Linked DNA regions of Homo sapiens: region 2 is linked to region 1. The links come from fine-mapping of genetic effects on gene expression. A gene starts in region 1. The other region holds a variant in brackets. All regions are shown on one strand. Distances are from middle to middle.

Region 1 (12,088 bases):
AGCCCATGCATGTGCTCTTCCAAGGGCATTCTTAATCAGCAAAGTATGCAAATAACCCAAATGTTCCACAAAAGATTGGTTAGACACATTCTAGTTCATTCAACCCTATAGCACATTCACCCAGGCAGGCGCTCAGGGCAAAACCCTAGGATTCATTGTAGACTTCTTTCTCTCCATCACCTCTCACAACCAATTCATTATATCCAGTCAGCTCTGCCTTCATATATATCCCAAATCCCTTTATTTCTCTCCTCCTTTGCCACCAACAAGTTCAAACCACAGGCCACTCTCCTCATCCATACTGGTCTCCCTCTTGCTCACCTGAGTCACCTCTCCACACAGCAGGCAAAAGATCAACTTTTAGAAAGTAAATCTTTTCATGTCATTGTCCTATGGAAAACCCTTCCTTGGCTTTCCAGTGCCCTTGGAATAAAATCCAATCCTTACCAGGATCCCCCAGGCTCTACCTGATCTGGCACCTGCTCGTCTCTCTGACCTGACCTACTTCCACATCCCTTCTACTTGCTAGGCTCCAAACATACTGCCACTTCTTTCTGTTCCTCAGACACGCTATGCTAATTCCCACCTTAGGGCCTTTGCACTTGCTGTTCCTTCTTCCTGGAACAACCTGTTCCTAATCATCACAAGCTCATTGTTTACGGTATGAATGAGGACATTCACCTCCTGGAGAGGCCTTCCCTAATCACACAACCTAAGACAGTCACCTTTAATTTATTTGCTTAAATTACCCTTAAGGAATTAAGGGTAACTTTTACTTGCTGCTTTCATTTCTTCTACCGTTTTATATTTTCTAAATTTTGTACAAGGCATGACTTTGATCAGAAAAAACTACTTCTAAAAAATGATCCTGGCCAGGCATGGTGACTCACACCTGTAATCTCAGCATTTTGGGAGGCCGAGGCGGGCAGACTGCCTGAACTAAGGGGTTCAAGACCAGCCTGGGCAACACGTAGAAACCCTAACTCTACCAAAAAAATACGAAATTATCCGGGCATGGTGGTGCATGCCTGTAGCCCCAGCTACTTAAGGGGCTGAGGTAAGACAATCACTTGAGCCCGGGAAATCAAGGCCACAGTAAGCCGTGTTCATGCCACTGCACTCCAGCCTAGGTCACAGAGTGAAACTATGTCTCAAAAAGAAGAAGAAAAAAAATCCCACTGGAAGAATGTGCAAAGATTCAGATGTACATGTGGCTAAGGCAGACTTACTGTCATGGAATGCCTTATTCAAGTCACAAATAGTGTTCTTCAAATATGTGTGAAAATCCTCAAAGAAACCAAAAAAGCAACAATAAGTGGATATGGAGTGGACCTTTGGACTGGAGAGGTCTCAAAACCAGTCAGACCCTTGCTTGACCTGTGCTACATCCTGAGTCTCACCCAGCTAGGGGGGGAAATGGAATAGAACATACTCTAGAAACCCTGTAATAAGCCAAGACTCTGTATGATCTATAAAAAGGATAACTATTGAAACCTGTTTTAGATACATTGTTGAACTCTGGCTCCCAAGTCTCTCTAATACAATGTTTCTATCTTCCAGTTCTCAGAAGTTTTCCCTCTTACATAAGACACACATTTATACTTAATGAGCACCAAAAAGAACCCTGAGCCCTCTGAACTAGGCCATCTTTTCAAAAAGAGGCTGGGCCCATAGACTAACTTGAAATGCTAGTCCCATCAGCAAAACTCCAGCAAGAGCTGCAGTTAATATTGAGAAGCAGAGGCCAGGTGCGGTGGCTCACGCCTGTAATCCCAGCACTTTGGGAGGCCGAGGCAGGCAGATCATGAGGTCAGGAGTTCAAGACCAGCCTGGCCAAATGGTGAAACCCCATCTCCACCAAAAATACAAAAATAGCCACACGTGGTGGTGTGTGCCTGTAGTCCCAGCTACTCGGGAGGCTGAGGCAGAAGAATCGCTTGAACCTGGGAGGCGGAGGCTGCAGTGAGCCGAGACTGTGCCACTGCACTCCGGCCTGGGTGACAGAGTGAGACTCCGGCTCAAAAAAAAAAAAAAAAAAAAAAAAAAAAAAAAAAAATATATATATATATATATATATATAGAGAGAGAGAGAGAGAGAGAGAGAGAGAGAGAGAGAGAGAGAGATAGCAAGTGCAGAAACAGGTTTGTTCCTTAACATCTTTTATCTCAATTAACTCCAAGATGCTTCCAAATGGAGATGTGCCAGTTTTCCTGCACTTGAGATAGTAGATCCAGTATAATGTGGTTTTAAAAAATACCACTATTTCTCCAACCTTTAAAACAGGATTTGCATATCCTTTAGATATGACCCAATAAAAGAATCTATCATTAAATATCAGAATTTGTTCAGAGTTTGTAGTAGGACTCACTCAATAGAGTGCCAGTCCCTGTGTGTGTGTGTATACTCATACATACATGTGCATACCCATACATACACAGAGAAAAGCTAATATTTCTTACAACAGAGGGTAAGACCCAACTCCTGGCAATCTAAGAGAACTCTCCCTTCTATTTACTCTTGCAGTGTGCTAAAGAAAATCTGAGCCAAAGATATGGGTGTGACTCTTCAAATGAGGTATCTGATAAGCCTCAGCCTGTACCACTCTAGGCAGTGTAGGAAGGGCCAATGGGTGACAGCTACCATGAAGCTAATCTCAGATCCATATTAAGCACAAACTTTTACCATAAATCAGAGCTAATTAAACAAAATGGTCTCTATGCTATAGGTTGCTTGACTTCTGGACTAAGATGTACTGTCTAGAATTTGTGACCCAGGCCTTTAATACAGACTCGGTAAGCTCCTTTTATACATTAGGTACTTTGCCTGATCCCTGTCCTCCAAGTTTCAGAGTGGAAATTGTACAATGGTATAGGCAGAAAGAACAAAAGGCCCAAGAATGGGCCAGGTGCAGTGGCTCACACCTGTAATCCCAACATTTTGGGAGACTGAGCCAAGAGTTTGAGACCAGCCTGGGCACTAAAGCAAAACCCCTATCTATAAATAATAATAAAAGAGGCACAAGATTATCTTAATGCTATTGCCCCCAGCACCTAGAACATTGACGCACAGCAGCCACTCAGCAGATATCTTACTGGGTGTGAGACAGGCATTTTTACACTGCATGATATATGACTGCAACATTAGAATCAATAAGACATGTGCAGAGGAGAGGAGGTCAGGTGCGGTGGCTCACATTTGTAATCCCAGCACTTTGGGAGGCCAAGACGGGTGGATCATCTAAGGTCCCGAGTTCGCGACCAGCCTGACCTCGAACCTTCGTAGAGATGGTGAAACCCTATCTCTACGAAAAATACAAAAATTAGCCGGGCGTGGTGGCAGACGCCTGTAATCCCAGCTACTTGGGAGGCTGAAGCAAGAGAATCGCTTGAACCCGGGAGGCAGAGGTTGCAGCGAGCCGAGATAGCGCCACTGAACTCCGGTGTGGGTGACAGAACGAGACTCGTCTCAAAAAAAAAAAGTTATGTGCAGAGGAAAGAGATGAATTCTGCCAGAGCAGGTGAGGGAAGACTTCCAAGAAGCAATGACATCAGAATGGCCCTTTCCTGAAAGAGCAGCTTTTCACCAGGCTGCAGGAGGAGGAAAGCCATGTAGACAAGAGTGTGCCCAAATCCAGGCTGGAGCAGATGGCCGGAGCTACTTTCCAATTCAAATTCCTACACGGTTCTATTTCCTGGGTTTTTGTTGTGCTTCATCGTCTCCTTCAAACCTTCCATTATAAAGGGTACATACAGAAGGGTGGTTGTGTTTCCCACCAGGAAATCAGCTAAAAGCAAACAGCAGGTAACAGACAGAAAAATAAATACCGTGGAAAGGAATGTTTTATTTACCAGGCAGTAAGCCTATAAGATTCTCAGACCTTCTGAGAGGGAAAAATAATCCGATAACCCGAAAGTTCACTAGAAACAAGCCACTTTCAAAACAAATTGCTGTCCTTTATTTTTCTTCTTTCTTTGATAAAGTTTTTTTTTTAATTGGCTCATGCAAAAAGCTGCTTGATTCCCAACAGAAAAAAGAAAATCTAAACATTTCATAGTCATTTCTCACTCCAGGGAGGATCACTGGGGAGGAAATGAAGGCATTTGAAAGAGAATGAAAACTAAAATTTAGAACACAGGAAAGTTAAAAAAAAAAAAGAGAGAGAGAGAGAAAGAGAGAACAAGGGAAAAGAGCAAATGGAAAATTTTCAAAGCCCCTAAGAAAGTGCAGAAATAAGCTACTTCCCATCACACTCTCTTTAAACATGGAAAGGGCTATGAGTCCAGTCCCAGGATGGACAGTGTGAAGCCCTTCATTCCAGAAGGAAACAAGTCACCAAGTAAGGTACAGAGAATTATGGAATGGGCTCATAGAAGGAAACAAGTCTCCTAGTCAGGTACAGAGAATTATGGAATGGGCTCATCTCTTCTCACTGTCTTCCTTCACTGACTCCATGCCCCTACCATGAAGAAGCCCAACCTAAACACAAAACCATTAGGATGAGAGCCAGCCTTCCCCCTCAGGCCGCTCTCCCCTCAAACCGCAGCATTTCAAGAATAAAATGCATGTGAATGTATTAAAATCAAAATAGGCGCACTTGAGGTAACAATACCCACAACAGAAAACTCAAGTGCAATCTGGTACACATAATTCTTCCTTTTGAGACATGGGGGTGGGGGAAGAGTTTCCTGTAAAAGTCCGCTTTTTCAATCTGCTTAAGAGATAAGGAATACAATTCTGGAGATACTTCTTAATTCCTTGCTTTTAAGCTTTCCTTTTGTTTTCTGGTACTGTCCTCCACCTTCCTTTTCAAGCCAGTCTGTGCTTCTGAAATGCAGATCTCCGGATAATTAGTCCATGATGGGCAATAACCAGCCCGGACATCCTTGAGAAGTACATCGACAGTAAAGGACCCCTGCTGGGAAGAACAACTTTTCATAAAGGAGTTGCTAATTACCAGCATCTCCATCCCAGAAGGGTTAAGAGCCTCGCAGCAGCACAACCGCTACCTCTCGCCTTTTAACGCCAATTCTTTCGGAACTGGTGTGAACGTGGAGTGGGAGGAGAGGGGGAAAGGGACGCACTCAACCCCGTCAGACTAAGAAATCAGGCGATCTATATATCCCCAAGTTCACCACGCCAGCCAAAGGAGGCATCTCATGCCAAGGGAGGCAGCTCAAGAAGCCATTTCCAGGAAAGCTGCATTACAAAATGTAATTTATCAGAACGAGTCTCCTCCGAGTCTCCTGACGGCCAGGCCCGGCGGCTTCGGGAGGGGGGGGAGTTGCTGGGGAGAGTTTACCTTAGAAGGCGACAACGAACAGACAGGCCTTTCAAAGCCACCCAGGGCTCTGCCCCGAGGCCCGAGGCTGCGTGGAGGGGCTGGAGAGGCGCGAGGCTGCGAGCCCCCCGGCGCCACAGGTTCCCCGGCGCGCGGCCCCGCCCGACTGCCACAGGTGGGCGGCGCTCCGCCTCTGGGCTCCCGCGGGAGGGGGCGCGCGGCTCTCTAGGGACTCGGGGGAGGGGGCCAGGGCTAAGGGGTACGGGGACGGCTCTGCCTTAAGGAGGGCAGCGTGAGACGGAAGCTCCGGGTTTTCCCTGCCTAGTTCTCGTTCCCTCGGCCGGGTGGCTCGGGCTATTCCTCGCGACAGGAGGAGCGGTGGAGAGGAGCCGTGGGCACCTCCCACCGGCCGCCCCTGGAGCCTCGGCCTCCTCCCCAGGCGCGGTTAAGCCGCGCGGCCGCCAGCTGCATGCGCCCCGGCACGTACGAGCCTGCACGACCACACGCGGGCGGGGGAAGGGCGCCGTGATCCGGGAGCCCCAGTCCCTCCAGGGCCTCACCCCAGCCCAACGCGGCTCGCCCCCGGCCCTCGTCCCCGCAGCCCCTCACCGGTGCTGGCCTTGATGTTCTCCCGCAAGAAGTGGCCGCTGGAGAGATGCTGGAGACCAAAGTTCTGGGCGATCCTCTGGCACACGGTGCCCTTGCCCGAGCCGGGCGGCCCGAGGATGACCGCGCGCAGGAGTTTGGAAGCCATTGCCTTCGCGAGGAGGGGGGCGGTCAAACGCGCAGCCCCGACCGCGGCCCCGGAGGAAGCCCCGGGAACTTTGTTTCTCGGCCCCCTACCTCTGGCACCCTCCGCTCTCACTGGGACTCGCCGGCCGCCCCTACAGGGGGAAGGAGAGACTTTTAAGACAACCCCTCCCCTCAGCCCAGCGCCGGGACCGAGTAGCAGGCGGACTGAGCGCCACGCTACACCTCCCCGCCCTTCTCCACCTCCTCGCCCTCCTCCACCTCCTCGCCCCCACGCAAAGCTGCTGAAGCGCGCCGTGCCCCGCCCTGCCGACTCGGCCTCCAGGGGTCAGAGGTCGGCCCGGCCAGTCCCACCTTCATCCTTAACTCCAGCTCGCTCCCCACGCCGCGTCCGAGAAGGGGGCCGGGCGGCCAGGCATCCCCAAGCCAGTCTCCGCCGAGCCGGGGAAGCTGGCACAAGCGGGGGTGACTCAAAGCCAGCCCCCGCCGCCCCACGCACCGGGCGGCCTAGGGGCTGAGCCCCTGCCCGGTCCTCGCACGTGGGCAACGTGTGGTCTGCGTCTCGTCCCCTCCCCGGCGGCTGTCACATCCCCCGGAGTCTCAGCTGCCGCCGCTGCCCGCCGCCCGCGCGCGCTCGGAGGGGCCCACCTCCGCCCGGGGTTGGCGGATGCGCTCCCCGGCCATGGGGCGCGCGACGAGCCCGAGCCCCGCGCCTCGCCACCAAAAGCAATCAAATAAACACACACCTTGGCTGGAGGCAGCACTCCGAGAGGCTTCCAGCCCGGATCCTGCAGGGCGGCGCCGCCTCCGCCCGCCCAGTCGCGGAGCCCCGGCCGGCCGCGCGGGACTCGCGCCTTACGTAAGCCCGGGAGACCGGCTCCGCGCGAGCCGCTGGCCGCCGCCCCCTCCCCTCCACTCCACTCCACTCCCACCCAGCCTGCCTGGCCCACGTGCTCCCTGCGACCCAGCGAGGGCTGCGGGGGCGAAGCGAGGTGCAGACCACGCGAGGTAGAGAAACCCCTTTTTTTCTTTCGCGGTCGCCTGGGGACCGCGGTCTACTGCAAGGGAAGGGAAAAATACAACTTGTTGAGCGCCTACTGTGCGCCAAGTTTGCGGCTAGGTGATTTCATTGTGTTTACAGCCGAGGAATGGAGCGTGACCATTCATTCATTGATTCATTCTGCAAATGTTTATTGAGTGCCTACTGTGTGCCAGAAACTATTCTAGGCGCTTAGGATCTAGCCGTGAACAACAGATCGAATCCTGCTCTCAAGAAATTGCGTCCTAGCGGGAGGCTGGAACCCAAGACTGACTGACTCCAAAGTCTAGGCGCCTTAGGGAACAGGGAAGAAGGGGATGTCCCTCACCTGTGTTCAGGACCTTCTTGGTAAATGATTCCAGGACTTCCATGCGCATTATGCTGGTGCTGCACCTATAACTCACCAAGTCCAAATGGAGTCTGTCTTCCCCCACTCCACCCTCCCCTGCATATCCCAATCCACATTCTGTTAGATCTGTGCCCACCTTACACACAGCCTTTAATTTCCCACCCCAACTAGTGGGATAAGTGCCCATAAGACTCCAGTTTCTGTGCCATTCCATTTTCCGTGCAGCTGCCAGGAATACTGATAAAGTGAAAATCAATATTTATTATTTCCCGGCCTCAGATATTGTCTTCCCTTCAGGATAAAGTGAAAAATCTTCAGCAGGGGCGCAGAGATGCCTTCCGTACACCTTTGCATTCTGCAGGCCCCCTCCTCTGCCTTCCTTCCACAGGCCACCTGCCTTCAGGAAATCTGTTGCAGAGTTCCCAGCACCAATACCCAGGACTCAGAGAAGGTGAGGGACACAAGTAGTGGGATGGTGTGGAGAAGAACCCCCTCTCAGCTCTTTGATTGGGGTTGGTGGAGGGCAGGGCCTGGCATAGTTTCCTGACACCCAGCGCCTCTCCCCACTGCTTACTCCACGCACAAAATTGGCCAGACAGCACACCCAGGCCACCAGCCCCAGGCCAGCATTTGTTCCATAGACTGATCTCCCTCTAAAATGTCTCAGTGTGGCCGGGCGCTGTGGCTCACACCCGTAATCCCAGCACTTTGGGAGGCCAAGGCAGACGGATCACTTGAGGCCAGGAGTATGAGACCAGCCTGTCTAACATGGTGAAACTCCGTCTCTACTAAAAATAGAATGATTAGCCAGGTGTGGTGGTGCACGCCTGTAATCCCAACTACTCCAGAGGCTGAGGCAAGAGAATCACTTGAACCTGGGAGGTGGAGGTTGCAGTGAGCTGAGATCACGCCACTGCACTCCAGCCTCGGAAACAGGGCGAGACTCTGTCTCAAATAAATGATAAATAAATAAATAAATAAATAAATCTCAGTGTGCTGTAGACCTGATACTGAGCCCCTTCAAACCTTTTCTGGGAACAAAGAGGAAGAACTTGCGGGTCTGGGGGTGGGGGTATATGTGTATAATATGTAGCAGATACTTCTTTGGAGTGGCTCTCAGAAGTGAGCATGCATCAGAATCACCTGGAAGGCATGTTGAAACGTGTTGCTGAGCTCCCCCTGCATAGTGCCACGCACGTCCATGTGAAGAGACCACCAAACAGGCTTTGTGTGAGCAATAAGGCTGTTTATTTTACCTGGGTGCCGGCGGGCTGAGTCCGAAAAGAGAGTCAGGAAAGGGTGGTGGGATTATCATTAGTTCTTATAGATTTTCGGATAGGCGGTGGAGTTAGGAGCAGTGTTTTGCGGGCAGCGGGTGGATCTCACAAAGTACATTCTCAAGGGTAAGGAGAATTACAAAGTACATTGATCAGTTAGGGTGGGGCAGAAACAAATCACAGTGGTGGAATGTCATCAGTTAAGGCTATTTTCACTTTTGTGGATCTTCAGTTGCTTCAGGCCATCTGGATGTATACGTGCAGGTCACAGGGGATATGATGGCTTAGCTTGGGCTAGAGGCCTGACACACAGAATCTGATTCAGTGGATTGAAGGTGGGCATTTCCATCAAGTTCCCAGGTGATGCTGAGGTTGCTGATCTGGAGACCACACCTTGAAAACCACTGCCATAGTGAACAGAGCATTGAGACACAAGATGTGTGGTGTCCTGATTCCTCTGCCAATGTATGACCTTTGGCCCTTAACCTCTACTTTGTAAAATGAGGAGGTTGGATTTAGTACATCCTGAAGATTCCTTCATATCTATTAAGAATTGACTGTAACTTTCCACAGGAAATATGGCTTTTAGCCCGCACAGACTAGCTATCCTATAGCCCTACCTTACCCTACCACCTAGTTCTTTTGTCTACTTTTGAAATGTCTTTACCAACATTACCTTATAGTGTCATGGAACAGTGCTAGCCACCCACATGATTCTAGGACTTTATGCTTTTAGGAGTATAAATTATTAAACAAAGAGTTGTGACACACATTAGAGAAACCAAGATTGGAACCTCGCATTTCACAAAAGAGCCCTCAATGGACCATCCCAGTGCATGGCCATCTCATGGTCCCTCAGCTCAGCTGCTGCTGACTTGGAAGTGAAGCAGAAGATGAAGAAACAGACTTTGGAGTCCAACACACCTGAGATCAAATTGCAACAGCACCATTCACTAACTGCAAATTTCATGATCTCTGTGAGCCTTAGTTTATCTGTAAAAGGAAAATAATACCTCAGAGTCTTGTGGTGAAGCTTAAATGGAGATCATGTATATAAAGGACTCAGTACAGGGCTGGGCATACAATAAGTATTCAGTCGTAAACATCATCATCACCAGTATTAATCATGGGTCAATTATTTAGCCTCTCTAAACCCAGTTCCTGAATGGTGAGAAATAAATGAGATAATACAACAAAGCACCTAGTCAGTTCCCTGGCACTTTTTTTTTTTTTTTTTTTTTGAGATGGAGTCTTGCTCTGTCGCCCAGGCTGGAATACAGTGGCACGATCTCAGCTCACTGCAAGCTCCGCCTCCTGGGTTCACGCCATTCTCCTGCCTCAGCCTCTTGAGTAGCTGGGACTACAGGCACCTGCCACCACGCCTGGCTAATCTTTTGTATTTTTTTAGTAGAGACGGGGTTTCACCGTGTTAGCCAGGATGGTCTCGATCTCCTGACCTTGTGATCCGCCCGCCTCGGCCTCCCAAAGTGCTGGGATTACAGGTGTGAGCCACCGTGCCCAGCCTAATGATAGCCATTCTTATCATATACATACACTCAGGTAATTAACTTCTTCCTATTTCCTTTGTCTAGGGTTTTTAACCCATTTGTAATACTTATCACAGTCTTTGAGTTATTACACAACTATTTATGTTTTTGTCTCCCCTCTAACACTATAAAGTCTGAGGTTTCTGTACTCAAACATATACCCTTTGTAATAATCTGTTAATGTTGGCAAGTCTCTATCCCTCATAACACACTCAGTACCATGCAGCATTGCCTGCCTGGGACGATAGTACAAAGGGAGCCGGACCTCAAATCAGATTTCCTCATTCTGAGCACAGTGCTCTTGTTCCTCTAAACTTCAATTATTTCCACACTATTTTTACAGTTTTGCCATAACATTGTACCACCTTGGCTGTTATTTGCTTATCATGTTTTTTTAATTTTTTTTATATTGACTGAGTTTGTTTAAATAATTGATCTGAGGCTGAGTGCAGTGGCTCATTCCTGTAATCTCAGCGCTTTGAGAGGCCAAGGCGGATGGAGGTCCGGAGTTTAAAACCAGCTTGGCCAACATGGTGAAACCCCATCTCTATTAAAAATACAAAAATTAGCTGGGCGTTGTGGCGCAAGCCTGTAATCCCAGCTACTCAGGAGGCTGAGGCAGGAGAATCCCTTGAACCCAAGAGGCGGAGGTTGCAGTGAGCCAAGATCGCGCCACTGCACTCTAGCCTGGGTGGCAAAGTGAGACTCTGTCTCAAAAATAAATAAATAAATAAATAAATAAATAAATAAATAAATAAATTTGAAAAAGAAATTTTATATAATAATAACTCACTAACCATAAGTAAAAGGATACACTGAAATAAATACAAGAAAAATCAAATAAGATACCAAATACCAGCTGGAATCTACCACCTGTTGATTTTCTGAGCTTAATCTTTGTCTAAATAAAAAAAAAACAAAAACAAAAAACAAAAAACAAAAAAAACAGAGCCAAGCAGGGTGGGATGAGGGTCGGAGAGTTTGTTTACCAAGTGTTAAAAGGTGTTTAAGACATACAGCATCTACATGAGACTCTGCTTAACTGAAATCACATGGCTGAAAATAAGACAGGGAGTACTTTCTAATATTCAGTTTAATTTTTTTTATATATGGAGTCTTGCTCTGTCACTCAGGCTGGAGTGCAGTGGGGTGATTTTGGCTCACTGCAGCATCTGCCTCCCAGGCTCAGGCAATCCTCCCACCTCAGCCTCTCGAGTACCTGGGACTACAGGCGTGTGCCACCACACCCAGCAATTTTTTTTTATTTTTTATTTTTTGTATTTTTAGTAGAGACGGGGGTCTTGCCATGTTGCCCAGGCTGGCCTGGAACTCCTGAGTGCAAGCTACTCCACCCGCCTGGGACTCCCAAAGGGCTGTGATTAGAGGTGTGAGCCACCATGCTGGGCCTCAGACCACGTACCACTTTGAATAATTTCTAGTACCACATCAAACTATCTCCTCCACTATCGGTAATACATTGCACATAATCTAATGTACCTCGAAGTATACCTTTGAAACTTAATTTAATATGACTCACCAGATTTTTGTAATGCTATGATTAAAAATATCACCCGAACCACAGTTCACAGGCACGACACTGACCTCACCTCTAAATTCAAACCCCCATTGTTCCAGCTACCACATCTCTCCATCATTGTCATGTATCACAATTTCATGTTTATTTCTGTTGTATTTGATGAAGACTGTATGCTCCTTTAACATAGTGGCTTCATCTTTTTTACCATGGTTTCCACGCAGCTTAGTAAAAATGCAGCACATGGTGAATATTAAGCAAACATTGTTAAAAGACGGACTGCTGCATGAATGAGTGGATAGAGTTATGTCTC
Region 2 (12,088 bases), 31 kb before region 1:
GGAGGAAGACCTTCATGTGCCCCTTGAGAGAGAACCTTGAGTTAATTCAACACAAGCAGTACGACCCCAAGTTTAAAATAACTCTGTGGAAGACTTCCAGAGGCATCTTACTCTAATTTACTAATTGAAAGATCTAAGTGCAGCATACTTTTGCAGCTATTCCTGCCAGCTTTGGCTCTTCTCTGAAGCAGGGCAAGCAACATGTCCTCTAACCTGATACAAGATCAAACTTGTCCCACATATCTCAATCTCTACCATGAAAACCCAGAAAGATCCTCAGACAAAGCAAAATGACCTTAATATATCCGCATCTGAATGAAGACCTCATGACAACAGCAAACTACAATAAAACACCCTGTCAGAAGACTGAGGCCCATTTCGGAAAACTGGACCTTCATCTACCCTTGTCAGTTTGCTTGGAAGAGAAAGCAGCATCATTAAATGCTGATGATAGCATGCATGGACTTACCTGCTCTAATTTCTGAAGCAGTATTCCAAAGAAAGGCTGTGGACACACATACATGGTCCCACACAGCTTCTGAATCCTGAGTGTGTTCACACACACACATCACACACACAAATAATTCAGAAAACACTAGGAAGGTTTCAAATAAATGTAATAAATATAGGGTGCCCCAAAGAGGCCACTATCTTTGCCTTTTTCTTAAGTTTCACAACAAACCAACAAATAAATCCATCATGTGTTTATAAGATTAAACAAAACACCAATGATTAAGGCGACATATAAAAAATCTTTCTTCAGAAAAGGAAAGATGAAGTGTCAGATTCCAAACATTATATATAACAAAATTATGTGTTCATATAGAGAGAAAGATAGATGGATGGTATCATCCACAATGTTAAGTATATTAGAAGAAAATCAATGTTCTACATATCTTACAACAATATAAATTTTGTGGCAATTCATCTTAACAACCTATTCCATTCAATCACTACTAAATTCAAATAGATATAATCTTGGTAACCTTGAGAAATATATATTTTCAATTTCTAACTAGATCAGATAATATACAAATTTTCAGGATTTAAGACTATTAAACTGTGCATTAAGATAATACCGCATTTAAAATTATACGATAACACAAAACTTAAGACTATCTATTAAGTTGGTCATCTCTCCAAAATTCATGCTTCCAGGATATGGAAAGATATTTTGTTAGCCTCAATTCCTACACATTAAAGCTGTCCACATTTATATCAACAGACTGAAATAGATCACTGTATTCAGGGCAGCACATATGCCAAAACACTGTCAACTGCTGAAGGAGTAGGATGTTGGACTCACATTCTGCATCATCTTAAGGCTGGTTAAAAAGAAAAGACCTGTAAGTAGAAGAGCCAATAAGCAGATGACATTTCTTTAGAAAAACCATGAGAACACAGACACATACATACACACACACACACACACACACACACACACACACACACACACACGGATATTTATATAGCACAAAATCCATTCTACAGCAACCCTAAATATGCAGGACAGTCAGCATAAACACTGCAGGGACTGAATGACTCTCAAAAAGAAAGAAATATTGGCCGGGAACAGTGGCTCACGCCTGTAATCCCAGCGCTTTGGGAGGCCAAGGTTGGGTGGGTTGCCCAAGCTCAGGAGTTCAAGACCAGACTGGCCAACATGGCAAAACCCCCAAAAATACAAAAAATTAGCTGGGCGTGATGGTGTGCACCTGCAGTCCCAGCTACCCTGGAGGCTGAGGCATGAGAATCACTTGAACCCAGGAGGCAGAGGTTGCAATGAGCCAAGATAACGCCACTTCACTCCAGCTTGGGCGACAGAGCAAGACTCTGACTCAAAACAAAATAAAACAAAGGAAAGAAAAAATAAATAAATATGTAAAGATCCAAAATACAAAAGGCTGATTTTGGTCCTGAAATGGGAAGAAAAAAAAAGGTACACTGTTCCCTCTGACAATATAGGGTATGGTTAGTTTTGTGGTTTGAATACTCTTTAAATCCACAAAATACTCATTCAGCTAATATTTATTAAGCATCTATGTGCCAGGCCCTATATCAATCTAGCATGAGGCCTGTTCCAGAGCTCAGAGTCTTAAACACTGGGATTGGGTACTAATCCACCAAAAGCTTTCAATAGCAAAAGTTCATGGAATTTTACTCTGTGTCAGGCAGAAAATTAAACAGTCAGTAGTTATCACAATTAAGATATAGAGGCTCTTACACTGCCAATAAAGTTCTACATAAATACACTATGAAAGAGGAATAGGCTATAGGTCACAAGCTAAATGAAAGCGTTTAGTCAAACAATGAATCTGCCAGCCAATCCACCTTTCACTATTGAAGAGATTATCTCTAAAATACTAGTCCAGGGTTACAGAAAGCCAACCAGGTTACCTTAGTTTCTTGACGCTGGAGACAAAAAGATTTGTTTTAATAAAAGTGGTGATTAACACCTCAAAATAATTGACTTTAGTTAGGTAAAATCCATCAACTGGAATGAAAGTCTCTCAGGATCAAATCTCAACTACTAATACTTTAAGCAAAGGCAAATGAGGTCTTTTTTTTTTTATCTGAATGTCTTATTTCTGTCTGTCATATACTTTTTTCAATAAGTAACGCAGGTGGGGCCAGCATAAGGACAATGAAAAGTGTGTTTTGTGACACAGGAAAGGAAAAGTACATGCCAGAAGTCAGCTGTGCAGTAACCTATGAGAGAGCTACTCCTGTTTCACCCCAGATCATCACCTCGATTCCAAAGCCACTCCAATCACTCAGAACCACAGCTGAAAATTCTCTGAACACACCACTTCTCCAACCAAAATTTTCTGCAAGTCTATGTACCAGGTACCACACAAGGCACTAAAGATACAAACATCGTACCCTTGAACTGAGTGTTGTAGCTCACACCAGTAATCCCAACACTTTGAGAGGTCAAGATGGGATGATCCCTTGAGGCCAGGAGTTTGAGACCAACTGGGGCAACATATTAATAACAAGACCCCATCTCTATAAAAAATGTAAAATTAGTCAGGCGTGGTGGCACACACCTGTAGTCCCAGCGACTCTGGAGATTGAAGTGGGAGGATCACTTGAGCCCAGGAGTTCCAGGGTGCAGCAAGCTATGACTGCGCCACTGCACTCCAGCCTGGGCAACAGAGAGAGGCACTCCTGCCTCTAAAAAATAAAAAATTTACTGAGCAACTACTCTGTGCCAGGCTGTGGCACATTTCCCTAAGTGTCAGAGAAACCACAAAGGGAGGGGGCATCAGAAGTCATCTGTGATCTTCTTCAGATTGCTTGGCCAGGTGACATCAAACAGATGACAACTTGGCCTATCAAAACAACGTCAAGTTATAAGAATGGCTTCCTATCATTTACTGGCACAACCCAAAAATAAAAATAATAAAAGCTTAATTCTGGCCGGGCACTGTGACTCACACTTGTAATCCCAGCACTTTGGGAGGCCAAGACAGGCAGATCACTTGAGGTCAGGAGTTTGAGACCAGCCTGGCCAACAATGGCGAATCCCCGTCTCTGCTAAAAATACCAAAATTAGCCAGGCATGGTGGCACATGCCTGTAGTCCCAGCTACTTGGGAGGCTGAGGCCTTGAACCTGGGAGGCGGAGGTAGCAGTGAGCTGAGATAGCGCCATTGCATTCCAGTCTGGGCAACAGAGCGAGACTCTGTCTCAAAAAAAAAAAAAAGGCTTAATTCTACAGCTTAGGAGCCTGCTGGTTTATGAAAAAGTCTAACACAGACACAATTATACAATATAATGTTGATGGCTACATGCATATACAAAAGTATATGGTAAAGCAAGAGAATCATTACAAGATGCAGGATAGTGCTGGAGGAGAGAGATGGAAAAAGGAGCTATGGGGTACTGATAACACTCTGTTTCTTAGGCTGGGTGGGAGATACAAAATTGTTATTGTTTCTAGCACCCACACACCCACACATCTGTATCCTCTTTTTGTTGTGACTGTCTATAAAGTGAAGGCAAACTAGATATACAAGACAGAGCTGAACGAATGTTCACAAAACAGCAAATTCCCAAGATGCCTGGCTAAGTCACCAGAAAGAGATAATTACTCAATGTTCTTTTCATTGTTCTACAGAAAATGCTGAGAGTAAGATTCCTGTAAATGAGCTCAATTCCCTTGTAAGACCACTCTACCCTGAAGTATCAGACTGCATGTATGGGACAGAACTAGGAGAAGCCTTGCTCACCCTGGTATCATCCCTTCGCCAAAACATCACTAATAATGGCAGTGCACACGTGTGTGCGCACCTGCGCACACACATACACGCATCTCAAGGGGCCTGGTCAAAGATGAACTGTAGAGCTTTATAATTCTTCAAGCTGCAAGTTCTTTATCTCCCCACTTGTAAGAATATTTTGGCACTGAAGTAGAAATAACTACTTTGGGGGAAAAAATACAGTGAAGAAAGACTTCATTCTATAAGTTATCCCTAATATCACTCTGCTGAATCTCTTCCAGTAAGAAAATAAGCTTTAAAAAATAAAAAACCTTGGTTAAAAAAATAGATGTCAAAGTCCTTTAGAGGCAGAAATCATGGAAGAAACTCTTAAATTTAAGGCATTTTGGCACTTAAGTGACTCATTTCAGACATCCAGTATCCACCTTTCAATTGGTATTTGTTCAAAGCTTGACTTTCTTTTCCTTCATACCAAAAATACAGTTTTAAATCACTCTCTGACACTTGCTATGGGTAACTATGAAGAAAACACCTCAGCCTCCTAAGTAGCTGGGAACACAGGTGCATGCCACCATGCCCAGCTAATTGTTGCATTTTTAGTAGACACGGGGTTTTACCATGTTGCCCAGGCTGGTCTCGAACTTCTGACCTCAAGTGATCCTCCTTCCTCAGCCTCCCAAAGTGGTGGGATTACAGACATGAGCCCCAGCACCTGGCCCAAAGAAAATTCTGAATCCAGTATAATTGGTCAAGTACATACGCTTTAGAGCCAGACTGCCTGAGTTCAAATCCTGGCACCACTTAAAGGCTATAAGACTTTTGTCACGTATGTCTTTGCCTCAGTCAAGTTTGTGCCTCCGTTTCCTCACCAATAAAATGGGAATAATATCACTTAGGGTTGTTTTGAAAGTTGCATGTGATTAACATATGTATAAAGGTCTTGGAATGATGCTGCTTTGCAAATTTCATTCAAGAACATGGAGATACTAAGTATTTGTGTCTATGTGCCAAGGGTTGTTCTAGACCATTTCTTTTTTCTTTTTGTTTTGGAGACAGGGTCTCACTTTGTCACCGAGGCTGAAGTGCAGTGGTGTGATCACAGCTCACTGCACACTTGACCTCCCAGACTCAAGCGATTCTCCCGCCTCAGCCTCCAGAGTAGCTGAGACTACAGGCACATGCCACCATGCCTGGCTAATTTTTCTTTGTAGAGATGGGGGTCTCATCATGTTACCCACGTTGGTCTCAAACTCTTGAGTTCAAGGGATCCTCCTGCCCGGGCCTCCCAAAGTGCCGGGATTACAGGCATGAGCCACCACACCTGGCCGATTCTAGAAAGTTTATATACATGAACTCATCAAATGCTCACAAATATCTATGAAGTCTAGGGTATAATATTCCCTATTTCTTAGATAAGGAAATTGAAACACAGAGAGATTAAGTAACTTGCCCAAAGTAACTGAGTTAATAAGTCATACAGCCCAGACTCAACTTCAAGCAAGTTGGCCCCAGTCCATTTTCTTAACCACTACACACTGCCTCTCAATGTTTGTGAGCATTTTCTTGAACAGAAACAACTTTGCATGTTAGCATACATGCTGCTGAAATATGACACTAGCACCTGTATAAAAGGGACAGGTTCTTACTAAAGAACCGAGCTGCTGACTGTAAGGAAATACCTGGTCCTGCTCTGTATAACCAGTGCTTCCTTTAGGTACTGTATCTAACTAACTAAAAACTCAGTTTCTATGTGGCTGTTTCCTACCAAATTATAAGCATCCTTTAATTCCATATCTCCTCACCAGTCAGCTTCCTTTCCTCTCTCCCAGACCCTCTCCCTCCCCCAATCCATCCTAGACACAACTCCAAGATAGACCTTCCAAAAACACAAGGTGGCACAAGTCGCTCCCTTGCTGACACCACAGTGTGTTCCTTGGCTTGTAGGATGGCATGGATGAATACTCCTTAGGATAGCATTCAAGGTCTCTCTGATCTAGCTGGAAACTACTTCTCAACCTCACCTCCCACCCTCATTTCCTTATCATTCATCCTTTGACCCCTTGTCTGTGCCAGGCACAGAGTCAAGTGCGACTGTGGTTCCTACCCTCCCGCAATCTACAGACTCGTGGAGGAAAGACGGAACAGAAGACAGAGGTGGACACCCCAATCTGACCTCAGGTCCAAAAGAAGCTTCCCACACTGGAGTTGGGCTTCTGAAGGGCTAGCAAATGTTGGCTGGAAGAAACACCCTTCAGTTTGTGTGTTCCTCTAAGAAGCTTTCCCTGATCATTTTTCTCCTATCTTACCTTGAGAGTTAATCCCCCCTTCTGTAATCTACCAGCACATGGGCTAAAGTTAGTTCATTCGGTGTCTGTACTAC[A/G]GAGGTGTTCCCTTTGGGAAGAGGCAGCCCTGTGGGCCCCCAGCTGAGTAAACACATTGTGGCTATGCACACATTTCAAGATGCTCATTTCTCCAGGCAGACTCAGCCGTGTGCCGGAGAACACAGCTCGGTGGGCAGAACCAGGGTTGGACTACAGGCCTCACACACCCCTTAGCCAGGTTCCCCTCAACAGGCCACGATTTGTACAATCATATGCAGTGGCCTTGTACCTTTACCTGACATTTCACTCCTCCAGTGGAACAGACATTGTTTACAAATCCTCCAGAGCAGATTATAATCCCCTTGAGGCCAGAGGCTATCTTAACAGTCAAGCAAGAGCCACTCTACTTGAGATGAAGAATTATCATACCTTTGAACTCTTCCACCTTCCCATCCACAGGACCCTACAAATTATTAGATGAACTTCTCATTACACCCTTTACCATACCTTACTTTTTGTATCGTTCACCCCTGACAGCCACGGTCATGACTTTCAGGCAATTAAGACTCAGAAAACCCTTCTCAACAAATGAAACATCATGTGCAGCAATGTTTTTTTTTTTTAAATGCTATCTTATAGTCTGATTCTTTGGCAAGCCTTGAATAACTGAGGAAAATTACTGAATTAAGCAAAGCATTCTCTTACCTGATTAGACTACATAAGTGGACATTTGGTGCATGTTGCCCTTGGTTCTCACAACCGTTGCTTCAGTCTACACAAATTGGTGCAGAAAGATCATTACCACAGGTTGTGTTTGGATCCCAAGCCTGATCTCTTAACAAGGAAGGGTCTGTTCCCAACAAGTGGATGCTTGCTCCTCCTGAAGCTATCTGACATTCTTAAACACCCACAAAATGCATGAGTCAACTCTGAAAGATTTCTGAGATTAGGATTCCAAAGTATTCTCTGACAGAAGCAGCAGGAAGTTTAGCATTAAGGAAACAATTTACCGTTTTTAACATATAGGTACGCGGAAGTCACCTCAAGGAAGGTTGTACAAGGCTTCACCAACAAAACTCAACTGCTTCTCTTTGTGCCATCTCCTCTGGGTGTCTGTGTGACACAGATAAATTTTACCCTAAAAGTGTCCTAATAAATCCCAAGCCAGCAGGGATTTGTAAGCTATTCCTAAAGAAGACAACAAAGACAGGTTTATAACTTATTTAATATAATTTTTAAAACTTTGAAACTGTAAAGACTATAATCCTACTCATTTTTGTTCCTTTGGATATTAGACTAATATGCTCGTGGCATATTAGTCACTGGTCTCTGAGGGAAAAAGAGACCTCATATGGAATACACCCGTCTTCAATACCTTTCCTTTGTCATTTAGTCTGCAATATTTAGCTCATGATAGCGGCAATTATTGTTGGTCTTCAACCAAAGGAAGTTGTAGCCAACATTACTCAAATCTGTGATCTGCACAATCGATTATCACCTAAGTCAAAAGCAGATTAATAGTAAAATGAAAAATTATTTAACCTAGATTTGAGCTCGAAAGTACAAATATGCATCTCTTAATCACTAATTGTGAGATTAAAAATGAAAGAATTTGTAATGTGATTTATTTCCTGACATCTGCATTTTATCAAGGGACAATACCTTTTTAAAAACACTGAAATACTGGAATGGCTTCATACTGAGGCAATGGCAAATATGACACCAGGAACTACTACTGCCAGGCTGGGAATCAGGAGTCCCAGCTCTTTGTTCTGCTTTCAGCTCACTGCCCACAGGACTCTCAACACAGCAATGTATTTCACTTATCGTGGCCTCAAGTTTCCTCATCTGCAAGAGAGAGGTAGACCGTTCGACCTCTGCTATCTCTGTGGTGGCACTTCAACTCCCTGCATTTGGAGGCTTGTGTGAAGGGTAGAGGACTAGCCTCCCCACACCAGCTTTCCTTAAACCACAGAGGTTCCATCTCTGTGGTGAGGAGGGGACTTTACAGACTAAGGAGAGTCTCCCGGCATTCACGGGCAGCGAAATCAACTGATCATTATGCCCGTTCTAAACGTGAGAGGTGGAGTCGGGATGGGAACTCAGGCCTGAATCATCATTTAGTGTTCTTTCTACCATACTTTCCCTAGAACGCTTCCTGAGAATAAGGGCCAATGCTTCATGAGGCCTCTTCACTCTTTTCTCTCTAGCCAGACTGGATATTTATATTCACTTAGTCTAATTTTGTACCCAGGGTCCAGAAATGTGTTGGCAGTGGGTATGCTTCTATAATAGCCAAGATAAAAAGATGCATGGACAACAGCCATGACTTTGGGTAGGGGAGGGGCTGGCATTACTGAAAAAGAAGGTGATCCAATCTCTAAGCACAAAGGATATCCAGACAATTCTTCCTCCTTAGGCTTTCTCATTCCGCCAGCAGATCAATTATTATTTCACCCTTCATATTTATTCAAAGAATAAAACAGTACAGTAACCTTCTTTTAAAATTAAATAAGTAGTGAAAGTAAAAGATACTGGAGCTTCATAAGCCAAAAAATTTTGGACGTCCTATGTCAAGTGTATTTTCTTGGCCCGGGATAGGAACACATGCATTCATAAACACACCATGAACATCTGGTGTAATACCACACGCGGCTTTATATAAGCAGCGGAGGAGAAAAGCAGATTGGGATGAATGCAACAGAAGTTGGGCAAGGGAGCAAATAGGAAAACGGCAAGTAATCTGAAAGATTTGCCAAAATCACAGAAGAGTTTTAAACCCAGAATGTTTAACCGTCTCCTCAAGCTCATGTTCTGGAAATCTGCCTTGGTATCCACCATAGCAGGCACTTTCAGCCCTACAGAGTAGGATTACATTGGAAATCTCAGGGGCCCTCTGGATTTTCTTACTCTGTAAAAACCATAGAACAGCCTCCCTGTAACCTGAGCACAGCCCAAGTACTAGACGCATTCAGAGGATAAGGAGGAATGTCACTTTTAAAGCAACACAAATAGTAATTCCTTGCCATTGCACAAGGCCCAGAGTGTGAATCTATCCGGCTGTGCCATGCACCTTGTTGGCTGCCTCTCTGAACAGGATCTTGGCTGCAGCTCAGCAGAAGCAAGGCTGCTATTCTCCAGTGCCATCTGCTCACACAGGATGGATTGCTACTGCTGCCCATGAGAGTCTTCCCTCTCTCTCTCTGTAGTAACTCTGGCAATGCCCTGTTGGAGAACTACAGCAAGGGCTCCAAAAATGTGTGCTGCTCAGCAACCTCCGGAAGGGAAACGGGAACAGGGAGAGCTGATGCGGACACTCTTCTGACAGGACCTCCTCAGCAATCAGCAAGGACAAGCAGTCCACTGAGCGGGCCAACACACAATCATCCTTCAACAGCCAGCAAGAACAACGATACCAGTGGCAACAGTAATGAAACACTTAGGAAGTACTGGACCAGGGGTTGTCAAATGAAGGTCATGACCACTATTTTGGTTGTTTAAAATAAAAAGTGGCACACAAAAAGAGAAAATATTATACATTCTTAAAATGTGTTTCACTTAATTGCAGGATTAAGCTAATTCCTACCATGGAGCACATTAAAAATAGATATCCATAAAAATTTTAAAAAGAAAAAATAAATAAGCAAATATTGGGTCAAGTCTTTCTATACTCCCTTGTACGTATTATCTCAATTAATTCTTACAACAACCGTATGAAGTAGTACCATTATTATTCTTGGTTTGTGGTTGAAGAAATAGAAAGTGTTTGAGTAACTTGCCTGGCTGGCTTCCCAGTCAATGTGGTTCCAAAGCCTGAACTCTTAACACATGCCCTACAGCAAGTAGCTCCCTAGACCCTGTGTCCAAAGCCTTTGCTCACTTCCTCAAGCAATTTCTCTCACACCGTAATTCTTTGTTCAACCATCTGTCCCTTTCCCCTTTCCCCTTGTGAACTGAGAACACCTCAAGGGCAGGTCTTGTTGAGCTCAGTGACTTAAACAAAGGCTCAGGGAGCAAAGGATCCCAACAGTATTTTTTAAATTAAGTGAGTAAATGAGGTATGTTAAAAGAAAAAAGAAGGCAAATTGTAGCCAAGAAAAAAATAATAATAAGTCCTGACACTCGAGGATCTGTCTTTGCCAAAGGGAAATTCGGTCTCTGAATTTAAGAAAGAAAATTAAGAAAACTCAGTCTCTGAATTAAGAAAACGAGTTCCTTGTATTCTTAGAGAGACTTGGGGGAAAATAAACTTCATCTAAAAATTTAATCAGGTTAAAAAAAAAACAACTAGAGTGTCAAAACATCTGCCTATGCTTTGCTCTGGGCCCTTCATTCAGGAAAAACTAATGAGTTTTTGGATCAATAAAGGTAAGGCTAGGGTTTATTTGGGGGGTTGAGGGTGAAGAGGGAAACTATTCTGGATTAGAAAGCCAAATCCTTCTGGTATTGGAGGATTGAAAGCTGAGGAACAGAAAAAGAGCAGACTCTCCAGAAGGGAAAAGAGCAAGAAATCAGTGAGCTGAACCTAAGCCAGGGGAGGGGCAGGCAGTGGCTGAAGGGGTGTGTGGGGAATGGCTGATAGGTTTTTAGGACACCGGTGTCTAACATGCCATGTCAACTTCCTTGTGCCAGACTCTAATCCCCATCACCCCAAACCTTAATACAACCACCTCAGCTAAGTAGTCTATTTTTTTTTTTTTGAGACAGGGTCTCCCTTTGTCACCCAGACTGGAGTACAGTGGCACAATTATGCCTCACTGCATCCTCAGCTTCCCGGGTTTAGGGGATCCTGCCACCTCAGTCTCCTAAGCAGCTGTGGCTACAGGCGTGCGCTACCACGCCTGGCTAATTATTTTTGTATTTTGTAGAGATGAGGTTCCACCATGCCGCCCAGGCTCGAACTCCTGAGCACAAGCGATCTGCCCACCTTGGCCTCCCACAGTGCTGGGATTACAGGTATGAGTAGTGCTTTGGGAGAAGGAAAGAAGGAGGGTCGGGTCCAACATGGGATGAAGTCATACAGAAAGGGCAGCCTTTCCAAGGAAAGACTGAAACGCAGAAGTGAAAAATTACAGGGAAGTATGCAATCTGAGGAAGAGGTGACCAGAGAAAATACCCAGTATTAGAGATGTGGTGTGGAGTGCCGGGAAGCCACTGAGTAAAGGATGAGGGCCCAAGTCTTTCTAATTCGGTATATAAAGCTGGAGGACAGGGACAGCTGATCTGCTGTATGTTAACTCTGTGGTGCAAGCCAAGTGCCATGGACTGTTACCCAGGGTCACTAATATCCCCCACCATGAGAACACATTTACTCCAACATGGTGCAGCCACTACCATGCCACACACCATAATGATTCAATACTGACGACCAAGACTTGTGGTTCAAAAATCTCTTGCTAGGCCGGGCGCAGTGACTCACGCCTGCAATCCCAGCACTTTGGGAGGCCAAGTCAGGTGGATCACTTGAGGTCAGGCATTCAAGACCAGCCTAGCCAACGTGGTGAAACCCTGTCTCCACTAAAAATGCAGAAAATTAGCCAGG

The links. PIP is the estimated chance that this variant, and not a neighbour inherited with it, causes the effect.
Region 2: its variant is fine-mapped to the expression of AK4 in whole blood (INTERVAL, PIP 0.91).

Annotation. Positions count from the first base shown.
Region 1 is chr1:65,142,353-65,154,440 of GRCh38, reverse strand. It overlaps AK4 (adenylate kinase 4), which reads right to left and starts at 6,238. Exons shown (of 5, transcript NM_013410.4): 1 at 5,889-6,238. The coding sequence starts at 6,033. RefSeq lists enhancers at 416-917, 2,631-2,680, 4,271-4,989, 4,990-5,708 and silencers at 5,302-5,581, 5,642-5,941, 6,322-6,821, 6,832-7,071.
Region 2 is chr1:65,173,021-65,185,108 of GRCh38, reverse strand. All of the region lies in intron 1 of AK4 (adenylate kinase 4), which reads right to left. Among named protein-coding and RNA genes, the nearest start is that of AK4, 31 kb to the right of the region's middle. The variant A/G (reference allele first, on the strand shown) is at 6,606.